2 linked regions of the Homo sapiens genome follow. The protein of the gene in region 1 binds, or shares a complex with, the protein of each later gene. Each region holds a gene or a part of one and is shown on either strand. Other genes may lie near its edges.

Region 1 (7,024 bases):
CCTCCCTTTTTCTTGAGCCATTCTTTTCCCTTGACTGGAATGCCTTTCCTTCATTTGGCTAATAAGATCTACCCATCCTTCAAGGTGCTGTACAAAATTCCTTGCTTCCAAAAAGTTTTCCCTGGTCCTTTTCAGTTAGAATTATTATTCCCATATTATCACAAAACATTATTGAATAGAAACATTTATTTTCCCACAGAATGGTGATAACTTTTGGGAAGAGAAGACAAAATCATGTTTAATATATTTTCCTATGGAGAATTCTAAACTCAAACTCTCTAGGGACCCTTTCTAAGCATTTATAATATTTCTGCATTTGGGATTTATTTCTGCTTTAAAATGTGTTTGGGTCAGGTGCAGTGGCTCACACCTGTAATCCCAGCACTTTGAGGGGCCCAGGTGGGCGGATCACTTGAGACCAGGAGTCGAGACCAGCCTGCCCAACATGGCGAAACCCTGTCTCTGATAAAAATACAAAAATTAGCCAGGCGTGGTGCTGGGCACCTGTGGGAGGCTGAGAGAGGAGAATCACTTGAACCCAGGACGTGGAGGTTACAGTGAGCCAAGATGGCGCCACTGCACTCCAGCCTGGGCGACAGAGTGAGACTCCGTCTCAAAAAAAAAAAAAACAATGCTTAGTGGAAAGGACCATTTCTTTTCTATTTCACTATTGAGCTTTAAAATTATGTATATGTATTAATTGATTGAAGCTGATGACTGGACCATCGTTGGTAATAATAAATGGCTATGCTTACCAAAAAGGTTTATATATAGTTCAGATGATCTAACCTGGTGGCAAGAAAAGTAAATTATATTTATTGTCTGATGAATGTTACCAGTTTGTGTAGATCCATGGATGGAAGAAACAGACCAAAAACAAACAAAGAAACAGACCAAAAGTTATTGGCATTTAAGTGGCAGTCAGGATCAGATAGTTTAGATAAATTCGAAGAAGCACAAAATGTAACCTGGTTTGCAAACTTTTTACTGCCAGTGGAGTAAAGCAGGGCTAGGATTTCTTTGATAAAGAGCTAGCCTTTCTTGTCTGCTCTGATTGCATACCTTGGACAGTGCCTGGAAGTCCACCTAGCTGTCTAAAGGGAGTCTGTCTATTTTGACTTCCTAATCAGATAATTAAATGTGAGGCAGTTAGAGTTATGTACTAGTTGATCTTTCTATATGTCTCTGTCAATTCCCGGGATATGGAAAAAATGATTGCCTTTTCTTTATGGTTAGATGCCGTGATCTAGCAATTTTGTTAATTTTGAGGTTTTTGGAGCATTGCTTGGAAGATGCTATTAAGAGACAGATTTGTTCCTTGCAGATTGTTAGTTGTAAATAGTAGTGGAGGTTGGAGGTTGAACTTGATGACTTCTCAATATCCTTTCAAACCTACAAATTATTTTCCAGTTCTTCGTCCTGTGATTAAATTTTCTTATCCTAATGATCAAATTTGTAATTTAATATTTGTTGCAAATTTTACTAGTCTTACACTATATACACACACATTGTATCTAGGAAGTAGGTTTGTTAACTCCATGTAATGAGGAACATGAGTGAACACATTATTGCTAAATTGGCTAGAGAGTTCTTAAAACATGAATCATGAATCAAGAATTGCTTGTTTGTTCAGTGAATATTTTTTTGTGTGAAGTGCTACCTAATTGTTATGGAGATTGTAATGTAAGAGGCACTTTTAAAGATATTCTTCCCTTGAGAATAGTAAGACTATATTATAAATTGCTCTTATTGAAATAGTGAATAGCATTCTGTCTTCTTGCTTATTTTAATGGTCTTAGAAATGGTTCTTTCTACATGCAGTTTTCATCAAGTAAAATATTTTGCAACTTTATTTATATTCATTTACTTATTCGTTAATTTGTGAAACATGTAAATGCTACATGTTTACATCTTAAGGAGTATGAAATTAACATTTTATAATTGCAAAATTTAGAATTTCATTAAGAACTCATGGATGAGAACAATATTTTGTTTTATTTTTTTAGAGACAGGGTCTCACTCTGTGGCCCAGACTGGAGTGCAGTGGTGCAATCATCGATTACTATAACCTCCAACTCCTGGGCTCAAGCAATCCTCCTGCCTCATCCTCCCAAGTAGCTGGGGCTATAGTCACAGGCCACCACACCTGGCTGATTTTTCAATTTTTTGTAGAAACGGGGTCTTGTACGTTGCCTGGGCTGGTCTTGAACTGTTGGTCTCAAGTGATCCTTCCACCTTGGTCTCCCAAAGCACTGGGATTACAGATGTCAGCCACCGGGCCTACCTAAGAAAAATATTTAAATTTAATATCAGTATCTGTGGGGAATTGGTTCCAGGACCCCCTGAGGATACCAAAATCCATGGATGCTCAAGTTCCTTATATAACATGGTATAGTATTTGCATATAACCTATACGCATCTTCCCACAAACTTTTAATCCTCTCTAGATTATTTATGATACCTAATACGATGTAAATGCTATGTAAATAGTTGTTATATGGTATTGTTTAGGGAACAATGCCAAGGAAAAAAGTCTACATGTTCAGTAGAGACACAACTTTTCATTTTCTTTCCTGAATATTTTTGATACGCGGTTGGTTGAATCCACTATGCAGAACCCACAGATCTGGAGGACCTACTATAATTTAATTTAATTCTAAGGTAAGTTAATTCTAATACCTCTCTTTCTGCTCCATTTTATAAATAACAGCCCAAACCTCATAGTGGATAACGGGAGATAATATCATTGCCAGTTTAGCTGTTTGTGTAATCTAGACGCCTTTGGAGCTATTGCAATGAGTATCCACACTAATTCCCTTTATTAATTTTTTTATTAAGGAAAAAAGAGGCACAGTGGAATTCTGAACAAAAGGAAAAGAGATTTGATGTGTTGATAGCTGCTATTTGATGTGTTGATAGCTGCTACCTTTTTGTTCTTTCTTAAAATACTGCTCCCTAGCCCGTGCTGTGGCATGCACCTGTAGTCCCAGCTACTTGGGAGGTTGAAGCGAGAGGATCACCAAGAGTTCCAGGCTGCAGTGTGCTATGATTGTGATGTGAATAGCCACTGTACTCCAACCTGGGCAACATAGCAAGATCCCATCTCTAAAAAAACAAAACAACAACAAAAGATAGTGCTTCCTTTGTTGGCCAAGGGAAGAGATAAGAGGAGTACTATTTTGTGTTTCTTGCAGGCTAAACTTGTTATTAATGTGAAAACCTCATTTCCTCTTGGAAACTTCATCAGTATTCCCAAGGCTGTTTCTTTCTACCTTCCCTCCTTTCACCTTCTGCTCTGTTCCCTATTAACTTCTAGCTGTACTTAATTAACAGAGCAGTGAGTATTCATTAGTCTGGTTTATGATATAGCTGAAATACTTAAAAGGATGTTATATAGAAGAGGAATTAGGCTTTATTGTATATGGCAGCAGAAGGAAGAAGTAGAACAAATGGGTAGAAATGGAAGAATTGCTCAAAGTATGGAACGATTTTCTTACAGGAATATTCAAAATTAAGATTAGCTGCTTTATGACCTATGTAGGAATGCTATAGTAAGATAGTGGACTAACTGACCTCTAGGATTGTTTATAACACTGAGATTCCAGGACTTTATGATTGTATATCTACCAATTTATCTCATATATGTATATGTATATCCTTCTTTGTCTTTCTCAACTGTTATCTCAGAGGTTATAGTTTATGTCTGATATGCTGTAGCTCTCTCTAATGTATCGGTATGGATTCATTTTTATTTAAATATTCTCAGTCTTTATCACTGAAGATTTTACCTTTATTCCTCTCTTTTTCTTTCTCACCCTCCTATTAGATATATTATAGAGCTGCTCATTTTGTCCTCCTTTTCTCTGAACTTCTCTTTATTATTTTTCATCTGCTTATTCTTTCTTTAGCTGCTTAACTAGTACATTGAGGGTTTGTTGTTGTTGTTGTTGTTGTTTTGGTGGGGGCAGACAGAGTTGCACTGTGTCGCCTGGGCTGGAGCGCAGTGGCATAATCTTGGCTCACTGCAACCTCCGCCTCCCGGGTTCAGGCTCACTGCAACCTCCACCTCCCGGGTTCAAGTGATTCTCATGCCTCAGCCTCCTGAGTAGCTGGGATTACAGGCTTGCATCACCACACCTGGCTAACTTTTGTATTTTTAGTAGAGACAGGGTTTCACCGTGTTGGCTAGGCTGGTCTTGAACTCCTGGCCTCAAGTGATCACCTGTGTCTGCCTCCCAAAGTGCTGGGATTACAGGCATGAGCCATTGCACCTGGCCCTAACTAGTACATTGAGTTATTAATATCAGTGTTCATGGTAGTTTTTTGTTTCATTTTGTTTTGGGGCAGGGTCTTGCTCTGTCAACCAGGCTGGAGTGCAGTGGCATGAATATTAATACTGTTAGTAACAGCAATCCAAAAAACTATAATCCAAATGTCCATCAACAGCAGAATGAAAAATACATTTGGTATACAATGGAATATACATGCAAGTTGTAGCTATGCACAACAATTGAGAAAAATCTCAGAAACAACGTTCAGCAAAATCATATAAAACTAAATGGTATCTTATTTAGGACTATACTGACATTCGTGTTAAAGTTGTAAAGACAAGCAAAGGAATAAGGAACAAAATACAGTTTAGAAATCACCTTAGAGGGAAAAGGAAGGAGATGGGTTAGGTTGGACTACCCAGGAGACTTTAAAGGCAGGTAATGTTCTTATTTTAGACTGAATGGTGTTATATAAATGTTTGTTGTGTCATTCTTTTTACCATATACATATTTCCCAAATGTCTTTTGTACCTACCCAATATTAATAAAAAACATTTTAAAGACCTTAAAGAGTTTAAGTAGAATATATTTTGAAAGCAAATGAATCCAACTATAACCGAAGTATCAGTGTGATATCTTCTTTGAAGAAATAAATTTACTGAGTTTGGAGTTGACTATTTCAAATAATTATTGAATTTTCATTTGATTTGTTAATAGTAGTTTTTAAAAGTTTGAAGCAGCAATTTTGTTTTTAGATGCTAATATGATACATACTGTTCTTTTTTGTTTATAGCAGAAAATATTACATAAAAGTATTAAATTTCAAACATATTTTAAAAATTACAGTTCTCAAATCTCATCTATTCCCACCCCTATTTAGAAGCTCCATGATGACAGTTAAGCCCTGTGCTATCTTCTGTATTGATTGACATGACAGCAGTCTGCAGAGTTAGCTTGTGATTATGTACAGCTCAGGGTTACTGTAGGTTGTTCTTTGAAAATAGGACTTCAAGCAAAGCATCTTGTATTCCTTTTGCAGAAATGTTGCTGAAGTGCTGCTGAAAGGGCCAGAGATGCAAGGATTTGGGATACATTTTGAACCTTTAAGCTGTCTGACATTGACCTCCTTTCATTATTAATAAAGAAGAATCAGGAGCTTAGGATGTATTAACACCAACTCATTAATATACTAACCGGACAATGTTCTACAAACAATTCTACATTGTAAAGGACTGGATTGGCACAAAATAAAATAATTTTATTTTATTCAGCTTATAATATGACTCGATGGAGGAAAATTTGATAAGCATGAGAGAAGACCATTCTTTTCATGTTCGTTACAGGTAAGACTATTGCTGTCTTAATGGATGACTTTTAATCCTTATTTTAAAGTGTTTTTAACTCTGATGACCATTTCAAGTTTCAGTTGAAAATACTCAAATATACCAGCCATAGTATTGTCTGTAGACAATATTTTCTTTTTGTTGTAAGTTTTCCTTTCTGTAAGAAAATGATAGTAGAGACCAATTATGTACTATGGTTTGTTTAATGTTCTCTGGAAGAGTTTATGAATAATTTCTTTATAATTTGTAACTTTTTATGTAATGCAAATATGTAAATGAAATATGTTTGAAAATCTTTGGGGCTAAAAGGTGGATTTTTTAAAAATGTGGTCAGCTGAAGGACCAAACCTTTGCATTGTAATTTAATGTGATCTTTTAGACATGAACTTTTTATTTTTGATTTATTTTTATTTTTTGTAGTGTATTGTTTTGATTCCCTTCTCATTTCCTTTTTTTGTATATTTTTTATTTTATTAATTTTACTTTTTCTATATTATCAGAGATGGGAGTCTCACTATATTGCCCAGGCAAGTCTCAAACTCCTGGGCTCAAGCAATCCTCCTGCCTCAGCCTCCAGAGTAGCAGGAACTACAGGTGTGTGCCACTGCACCTGGCTTTTTATTTTATCTTTAAAGGAAATTTTATTTCACAACCATTATTACTGTTTTAAATATGTACCTAATCCACATTAATATAAATACATTATTATTAAAATACAAACAAGCGCTGTTCAAAAGAAATGTCATTTTTAAGCTTAATGTCTAGTGACATTTTGTGTTGTTTTGCTGATTTAATACTTAAGACCACATTTTTACATGAAGTAGTGGTTTGGTAATCCCTAATTTACTCCAGAAAGCAAGTCAGGCTGAGGAAAGGCACCCACATGCATTCTCTCACAAGCTTCACGGTCCCTAGGGAAATGGCCTGGCTCCTCTAGGACTTACAGTGTTCCCTTGGATGCCCAAATGGATTGTCTACATTCCTGGTAGAAGGTTGCAGATTGTAAGGACCAGTGTTCCCACCTTTGTTCTGCATCCACAAGTGTCTTTCACAAATACAACACACTCCCTTTGGCTACACCTTATATATAATAGGTTATGCACATGTATGTGTGTTGGTGGGGGTGGATGCTTCCCACTGATCTAGATCAGGATCCAAATCAGACATACACATCAGGAAAGGAGGGAAGATAGCCAGGAAGTGATAGCTGGGCAGAATGAAGGTACAGAATGGGCAGGTCTTCCTGATTTTTCAGAAGAGCCCAGGAAATCTGAAAATCTGAAGAGTGTGTGTGTGTGTGTTTTTGTGTTTTTGTTTTTTTTTTTTTGGAGACAGTCTCACTCTGACGCCCAGGCTGGAGTGCAGTGGCACGAGTTTGGCTCACTGTAACCTCCGCCTCCCATGTTAAAG
Region 2 (6,877 bases), on another chromosome or scaffold:
ACACCAGCTTTAGATAAGGCCTTAAGAATGATGAAGCTCCTCACACTTCCCCCTGAGAATCCCCCGGGGCATAAAAAATGCTACAGCCTAGGGCTTTAGTAACTGCCCAGGCAACAAAGTGTTTGATTTTTAGGCAAAAGTGCCTACCTCTGATTAATCCAAGCGAATGTTGGGCCTCCTAAATAGTCATCTTACAGGCTGAAACTTTTCCTACCAGTACTGCCAAGGCTGCAGACAGCTGTGGAAATCCTTCTAGAGCTAATATTCATGTGCCTCAACTCATATGTAGCCAACTGTAAACTGGTGCCAACTTCAAGTGCTCATTTTGTGTAAGGTAAAGATGTATTATTTCCATTTTACAGCTGAGGAAACTGAGTCTCAGAGAAGTTATAGGACTTGCTCTGGATCTGGTGACCCTGAGTCTTTTATTCATGAGTACTTTCAACAGTGTTTGAAAGTGTGTCTGGTTTTCAGAAATGACCAAATGTCACTTGAACCTAAGTAAAGCAAATTAAGTAGATTCTCAAGGTTGGATAATACAGTTTCCAACTAGTAAATCCCTACAAGATCCAGAAGGGGCCTTAGAGATCATCCAGGTTAATAAGAAAACTTCAGAAAACCACATATGTACTCAGGATCCCACTTTTTTGGCTTTTATTTGTTTTAGGCAGATCTAGTTCATGCTAGACAAACCTATCCTAACCTCTGCAGCACACACCTGGCACAGAGAGGGGACAGAGCTGAGAGACCAACTACTCCAATCTCTGCCCTTCTGCCAAGATGGCTTAAAGATATAAACACTCTGTGTTAGCATGTTTCAAGGGAGCAGCTTTTTCCATTGTTGTATTAATGAGAAACAAAGGAGGAGGGGTGGAATCTCTTTGCTTTAGAAAACAATATCAATCCATTAGAAAACATACTAGATAATTACTATATGAGAGGTGTGTAAAGACCTGTAGAAGTCAGTCATTTCCCTTGGTAGCTATTATGCTGTGGAGAGATGGCATCTGCATCATTCATAACCGTAGCGCACAAATTGGCACAGGGAGAAGGCCAACAGCAAGCTGTTCCAGGTAGACCAGATGTCTCCAAGGGAGGCTGTCTCTCTAGAAGTAAACACAATGTCTATTTCCTGTCACTTTCACTGTTGAATAATTAGATATTTGGTATCTGGAATAATTATTGATAAATAGGGTAATCCTTTTAAAAAGAGCATCCCAACTGTTCTCTTCTCAGAAGGAAGCACTTTTTCAAAACACATTCTCCAAAGGCACTGTTTTATCCCCTTTTCCCAATCACGAGCTGGTCTTGTGCTGCCAGATGTTGACTCAGAGATGAGGGAACGTGTCGGTGGCCACTCTTTTGGGGGAAAGGTAGAAAAGGTGAAGGGGGAAAATAACTGGAGAATGTAAGAAGGCCTTTGTTGCCATCATTAACAGTCAGTCCAAAGGAGGTTGAAGGATGCTGGGGAAGTGGATGGGTGGGGAAAGAGACAGATGTAAGCCACGAAGTCATACACAGATCAGTACTCACTGGGGATGCTTGGCCAGCTTTGGTTTGGCTGTGAATCCAATGGGCATATGATTTGTTCGTTCAACAAATATTTCTTAAGTTCTTTCTACATCTGGGGAAGTGGTCTAGGCATTTGAGATCCATCAGTGAAAAACAAAAGCAAAACAAAACAAAGATCCCAGCCCTTGTGGAGCTCCAGTGGGAGATTCAGACCAAAAAAAAAAAAAAGAAATCCTAAAGATAAAAATAAATTATATAGTGTGCTAGTGGGTGATAAATGCTATGGAAACAAGAAAAAAGAATAAAACAGTTAATAGGGACTCGGAGTCCAGGGTGTGAGAACCTTTTGCAATTTTAAATTGGCTTTCTAGAGGGGGCATTTTGGAAGTGGTATTGGTGCATACATTTGACAGGGTGGAGAAGCCGGCCATGCAGATATCCCAGGAAAGAGCATTCCAGGCTGAGGGAACAACCATTGCAAAGAGCCTAAGGTGGGAAGATTACCTGTAGAGTTTGAAGGATAGCAAGAAGTCCAGAATTGCTGGAGCCCAGTGAGTGTATGTGTGTGAGAGAGGAGGGGCTCGGGGTAGGGGATGAGGAGGGACAGAGAAAAACGGGAGAGGGAAGTGGGCAGTAATAGTTGAGGTAAGAAAGATCAAAGGATACGGGATCTAGGGTCCTGTTGGCCCTTGCAGGAGCGCAACTTTAGCTTGACGGACAATGGGGAGCTTTTACATATTTTAGATCAGACAAGTAGCCTTATGTGATCTACGTTAAAACACACACACACACACACACACACACACACACACATACACACACACAAAACATCTTTTTGTCTGGTATGTTGAGAATAGATTATGGCATAAAAATAAAAGATTTCTAAATATATTGCCTTATATGAAAAGGTTGCGATGAGACTCCAATGCAAAAAAAAGCTTTAAAAATTATAAAGCACAGTGCAGACCCAAACTATAATTATTTTACAAACAATAGAGTTCAAAAGCCAAGGTCCCTCTCGCCCCTTCCGATCCTTGAGTAGTAACTGCGTTCATGCAATTAAACTAGCCTGTTTAATAGAAGCTGCAGGAAAACTGATAACTATGTATTCAAAAACATGTAATTTTATGCCTGAGTTTTAAGTCATTTAGATTTTGCAGATTGCTATTTATTTTATGTTCAGTTTTTGAAATAAATGCTTAAAAAAAACGCTTTAGTACTAGGCTTGAATACTGAAGACTTTAAATATAACAACAGACCAGGAGAGGAGCAGAAGTGTGGGAACTTTAAACCTATTTCTTTCTTAATCCCCTCGGAGAGCTAGACTGGAACACTGGCTGGATCTTCCAACATTTCTGGGGGTGCTCTCTGTTCTTTGCGGTGGCCCTGCCGCCAGGTGAACGCTGCCGGTGGGAGAGCACACACTTAGTGCGGCCAGCTGACCTTCACAGTCTGGGGGGAAATTTTAAAGGATTGTGGAGAAGAGGCCTTGAGACTTCAAGAGGAAGAAGAAAAAGGGGCCCAATGAAGCCTGAGCCTCCCAGGAGGTAGAACTGAGTTAATGAACAGGGCTGATTATCCAAGGTAATTATGTAAAAGAGAAGGCTAGGAGGAGTTCTAGATGGCTGCAACTTGGAGTTTACTCTGCCTAAGGTGAGTGTTTATGTTTCTGTGTTTTTGCTTCTCCGGCAAGGTTTTGTTTTGTTTTGTTTTTTTCTTCCCTGTTCCCTTCACCCAAGGCTCAGTGTGCAAAAGCAGCTCGCTCTGCGTGGCAGACCCCATTCTAATCCTTCTCTTTCCTTAGATTCTGAGCCCGGTTAGAATTAGCCTCCGCATCACGGGCTCCTGGGACCCTCCGCTCTATGCTCCTCGAGGAGGGAGCAGCTGTGTTCATCCCCCTACCCGCAAATGCCTCCGGTTCTTATTTGGCAGACACTCCCGCGGTGCTGCTGTCCAAAGACACACCTTCCCAGCCAGCCCAGTGGTCACGTCTCGCCCCAGCGATTCGGGAGAAGCAGTGGGAACTCTGAGCTCCCCGAATCGAGCCCGCTGCGCCTGGCATCTCCCTTCCCTTCCCCTTGACAAACGACCCAACCTCAATCATCCCTGCTCCTTCCGAACGCTAGTTTTGTTTACGGAGCAAACCGAGGCTTTGAGCAACCTGCGGTTGCACGGCTCTCCTTCGGCTTGGGGAGGGAGGGGTAGCGTTCACAGTTCTCCAGTGTGCCATAGACTGTTAGACCAGATCCTTCAGATCTAGAGGCACACGCAGTGGGTGACAGGAGAGTGCCCCCTCCCCCCGGGCGGGTGGGGGTGGGGAGAGGAGCAGGGACTCGGCTTGGAGAAGGAGGCAGGGAGGCAGCTGCAGTGCTGCGAGGGGTGCGTGCGCGTGTGCCCAGCTCGCCTGCCGTCTCCCGGCTCCGTCTGCGCTCCTCGGTGCGTGGGGCACGAGGGTCCGAGGGCCGGGAAGCCAGAGCAGCGCCTCTCGCCCAGGCCTCGCTTTCTCTGGACGCCCGGCAGTCCCCGGGGCTAGAGCGCACGGGGCGGGGCGCGAGACCCGGGCCGCGCTCCCCGCCCCCGCCTCTTGCGCCCTGCCTGGCTCCCTCTCCATTGAGTTTTCCTGCCTCGGGTGCCTATCAATGGTCCTGCTCGGGGATGCACACGCAGCTCGCGGCCGGAGGGGGGTAGCAGCCGCCGCCTCCAGGTGCAGGTTCTCTCCGGCCGCCGCCGCCACCCGCTGTCGCCGCGACTCGAGCCCCGGGCGCACTGAGGTCTTGGCCATGGGGCTGCGGAGGCTGCTGTTGCTGGCGTGAGAAGGGGCGACGGAGTTGTCGCGCTCGGGGGTCCCCAGCTGCCTGCATGGATGTCTTCAGCTTTGTGAAGATTGCAAAGCTTTCGAGGTAGGGGCTGCGCGGGTTCCGTTTGCACCCAGGGCCGCTGCCGCGGGCAACTTGGTGCCTTATTTTTCGGGAGGCTGGGTAGAGGCAAAAGCTGGAAAGCGCGACGGGGCTTAAGACAAACGAAGTGGCCGGGGGCTTCCACGTTCAACTTATTTCTCACTGGCTGCTGAGGCTTGTGTAGCGGCGGGTGTAGACCACACACAGAGAGGTACATACATGCCCTCACCAACACACCGACATTCACGACAGTTTGTTTTCCCTAAGGAAAAGCCCCAGCGGTGTTTGGGGTCCCATGTATAATTCAGGGCTAAGAGAAGATGGTTGTAATTGCTACTGCTAGGGAAACCCAGAAGTGCTTGGAGCTTGGGTGCCTGCCTTCCAAGCTGCAAAGACCAAAAGTGCCGCCTTCCCCCAACTCCTAAATTACACCTCCACACCTCCACAAAGTCAGCTCCTAGATTGACCAGGTGCTCCCAACGGTAACCTAGATGGCGAAGTCATGTAGATAGAAGAGAAAGACTTTCAGCCTTTTTTTTTTTGGGGGGGGGGTAACTATATTCTTAAGCCTCGAAAGATTTAGAAATTTTCTTCTAAGTGGCCATGTTGTTAAAACAGTAGCTAAAACTAAATCATCGATTCAGACATTTTTGGGTAGTACTGATAAAAGAGGAACATTTCCACGCTTGGGCCGCCTAGGTGTTGCCTGGCCAGAGCACTCCTCCAGGTCTTCTGCCCTGCTTATGCTTCCAAAGTCTTCGTTTGAGCCACAGAGTAAGGTTTGTGCTGCTTGCTATGTGGCATTAATTGGGAAGAGCCCAATAGGAGTGGTCTTAGAAAACCATGCCCAACCTTCTCTGCCCCTGGAGCTCTTTATAGCAGCTACCACCAGGACGTAGGAGGTAGACAGTTGGGTTTTTCCAGGATGTAGCTTAAAAACTTACTTGCAATATGGACAGAATAATCCCAGGTTTTCCTTCAGTCCTGAGTGTCAGAGTGAGATGTGTTGATTGCATCAGGCAGGGATGAGCAGCTTCCAATAGTCAGAGGTAGAAACGTATGTTGACTTTGCTTTATTAAATTACATTAGACCACTTCAGAAAGGTTCTGTTTGGATGTTGCCATTCTCTCCGACATCTACAGGTCTTTGTTCTGCCTGCCCATCTCCACCTTCCCTTTCTACTAACATGGGTCAGTCTTCATGCCACTAGCAGATTTCCCCAGGCAGAAAGGCCCAGTGCAGCTTACTCTAAGTAGACTGGAGATACGCAGTTGATGGGTAAATACCTGTGTCTTAGAGCAGCTCAGGAAGAGGTGTTGTCCTGCAGATCAGAAGACTGATGTGTTAAGCAGTGGATGATTGTGGTGTGGCCAATTGTTTGCTTTCAAGCTGATCTCATAGAGGGCCATTGCTTCACACCACTATTCTATTAACTTCCTGCATGCTTCTGCCTAGGGCTAGTTTCTAAACAGCTGTCAAATATTGAACCATGGTTGGGAAGCAGCTGTGTGCAAGTTTAGAGGCTAAGTGGTACCCTCCGTGTGATGGACAGAGATACTGCTAAAGGGAAAGGGAAGTTCAACCAATAGTATAGTTCAAAGTAACCAGGATACTTTTTGGTGGCCTCAGATGCTAAAAACAGTTTAACAAAACATCTAGAGCCTCGATTTAGTCCTTAAACTTAGGAACTTTGGAGAGGACAGTGTCATGTGTCAGTGAAAAGATGTTTCATATTCTTTTTACTAAATTCTAGGATGCCTACATGATATTCACAAATCTGAGTTTTTGCAAAACTCAAGCAAGGCTGTGGGGAGAGTGGTATCTTATTTTAAAGAGAGTTTAAAATTTAGTAAATGAGTGTGAGTTTCACTTTCTATCCTTAATGTGATCCAGTAGAGTGTTTATTCTAAAGACAGAAGGTGCAAATGTTCTGAGCTGATGTGCCGATTAAGAAATCTTCCATCCATAGAATTCTTCTTTTTCTTTAGTGTGAGCCCGAGGATGGTCCCCGTGCTGAGATAGAAGTACCTTTAGAGGGTCATCAGCATGTAAAAACACATGTTTGCAGTTGCTTGTTTCTGCCTTGGGAGGAAGAAAGTCTTGTATGTGTTTTAAACACTGTTACAGAAAGCAAGTTCTTTTCTCAAAGGTGAAGTATGAAAGTGCTTATACTGCAGGATTTTCCTGATTTCAGAATGGATAATCTTCCTAAAGGATTTAGCTTTGATCAGCATGGTTACTTCAGTGCTTAAAATTCTCTTGGTTTAGAGGCAAACACATGTAGTTACCCTGGGTACCTGGCCTTACCTTTGGTTCCTACAAACTTGAGCTTCTAAATGTTAATTCAGAAGGCATATCTTGGAAGTGATATTTGCTTAGTGTCCTATCTGTGAGTAAAGACAGTGTAATTACAGAGAATTCCAAGAGAATATTATTCGACACTGGAATAAATAAACTGCATATTTTG

The links.
Region 2: the proteins of GPSM2 (region 1) and FRMPD4 are in contact, whole or in part, in a crystal structure (PDB 4WND), measured with the Homo sapiens proteins. Residues at the interface, in NP_001307967.1 of Homo sapiens: Leu25, Ala28, Leu29, Glu32, Asp57, Lys59, Thr60, Ser62, Ala63, Ile64, Ser66, Gln67, Asn70, Phe73, Tyr74, His85, Asp88, Ala92, Gly100, Lys103, Asn107, Asn110, Thr111, Lys113, His128, Arg143, Tyr146, Asn147, Asn150, His153; in NP_055543.2 of Homo sapiens: Gln988, Leu989, Leu990, His991, Ser992, His994, Met995, Glu996, Met997, Glu998, Pro999, Glu1000, Thr1001, Met1002, Glu1003, Thr1004, Lys1005, Ser1006, Val1007, Thr1008, Asp1009, Tyr1010, Phe1011, Ser1012.

What each region holds. Positions count from the first base shown.
Region 1 is NC_000001.11:108,879,965-108,886,988, forward strand, and holds part of GPSM2 (G-protein-signaling modulator 2), read left to right. Parts: intron 1-2,511; exon of another isoform or gene 2,512-2,661; intron 2,662-5,310; 5' UTR 5,311-5,558; coding exon 5,559-5,614; intron 5,615-7,024. UniProt on the Homo sapiens protein: Plays an important role in mitotic spindle pole organization via its interaction with NUMA1. Required for cortical dynein-dynactin complex recruitment during metaphase. Plays a role in metaphase spindle orientation.
Region 2 is NC_000023.11:12,134,601-12,141,477, forward strand, and holds the start of FRMPD4 (FERM and PDZ domain-containing protein 4), read left to right. Parts: upstream 1-3,872; 5' UTR 3,873-4,371; coding exon 4,372-4,412; intron 4,413-6,877. UniProt on the Homo sapiens protein: Positive regulator of dendritic spine morphogenesis and density. Required for the maintenance of excitatory synaptic transmission. Binds phosphatidylinositol 4,5-bisphosphate.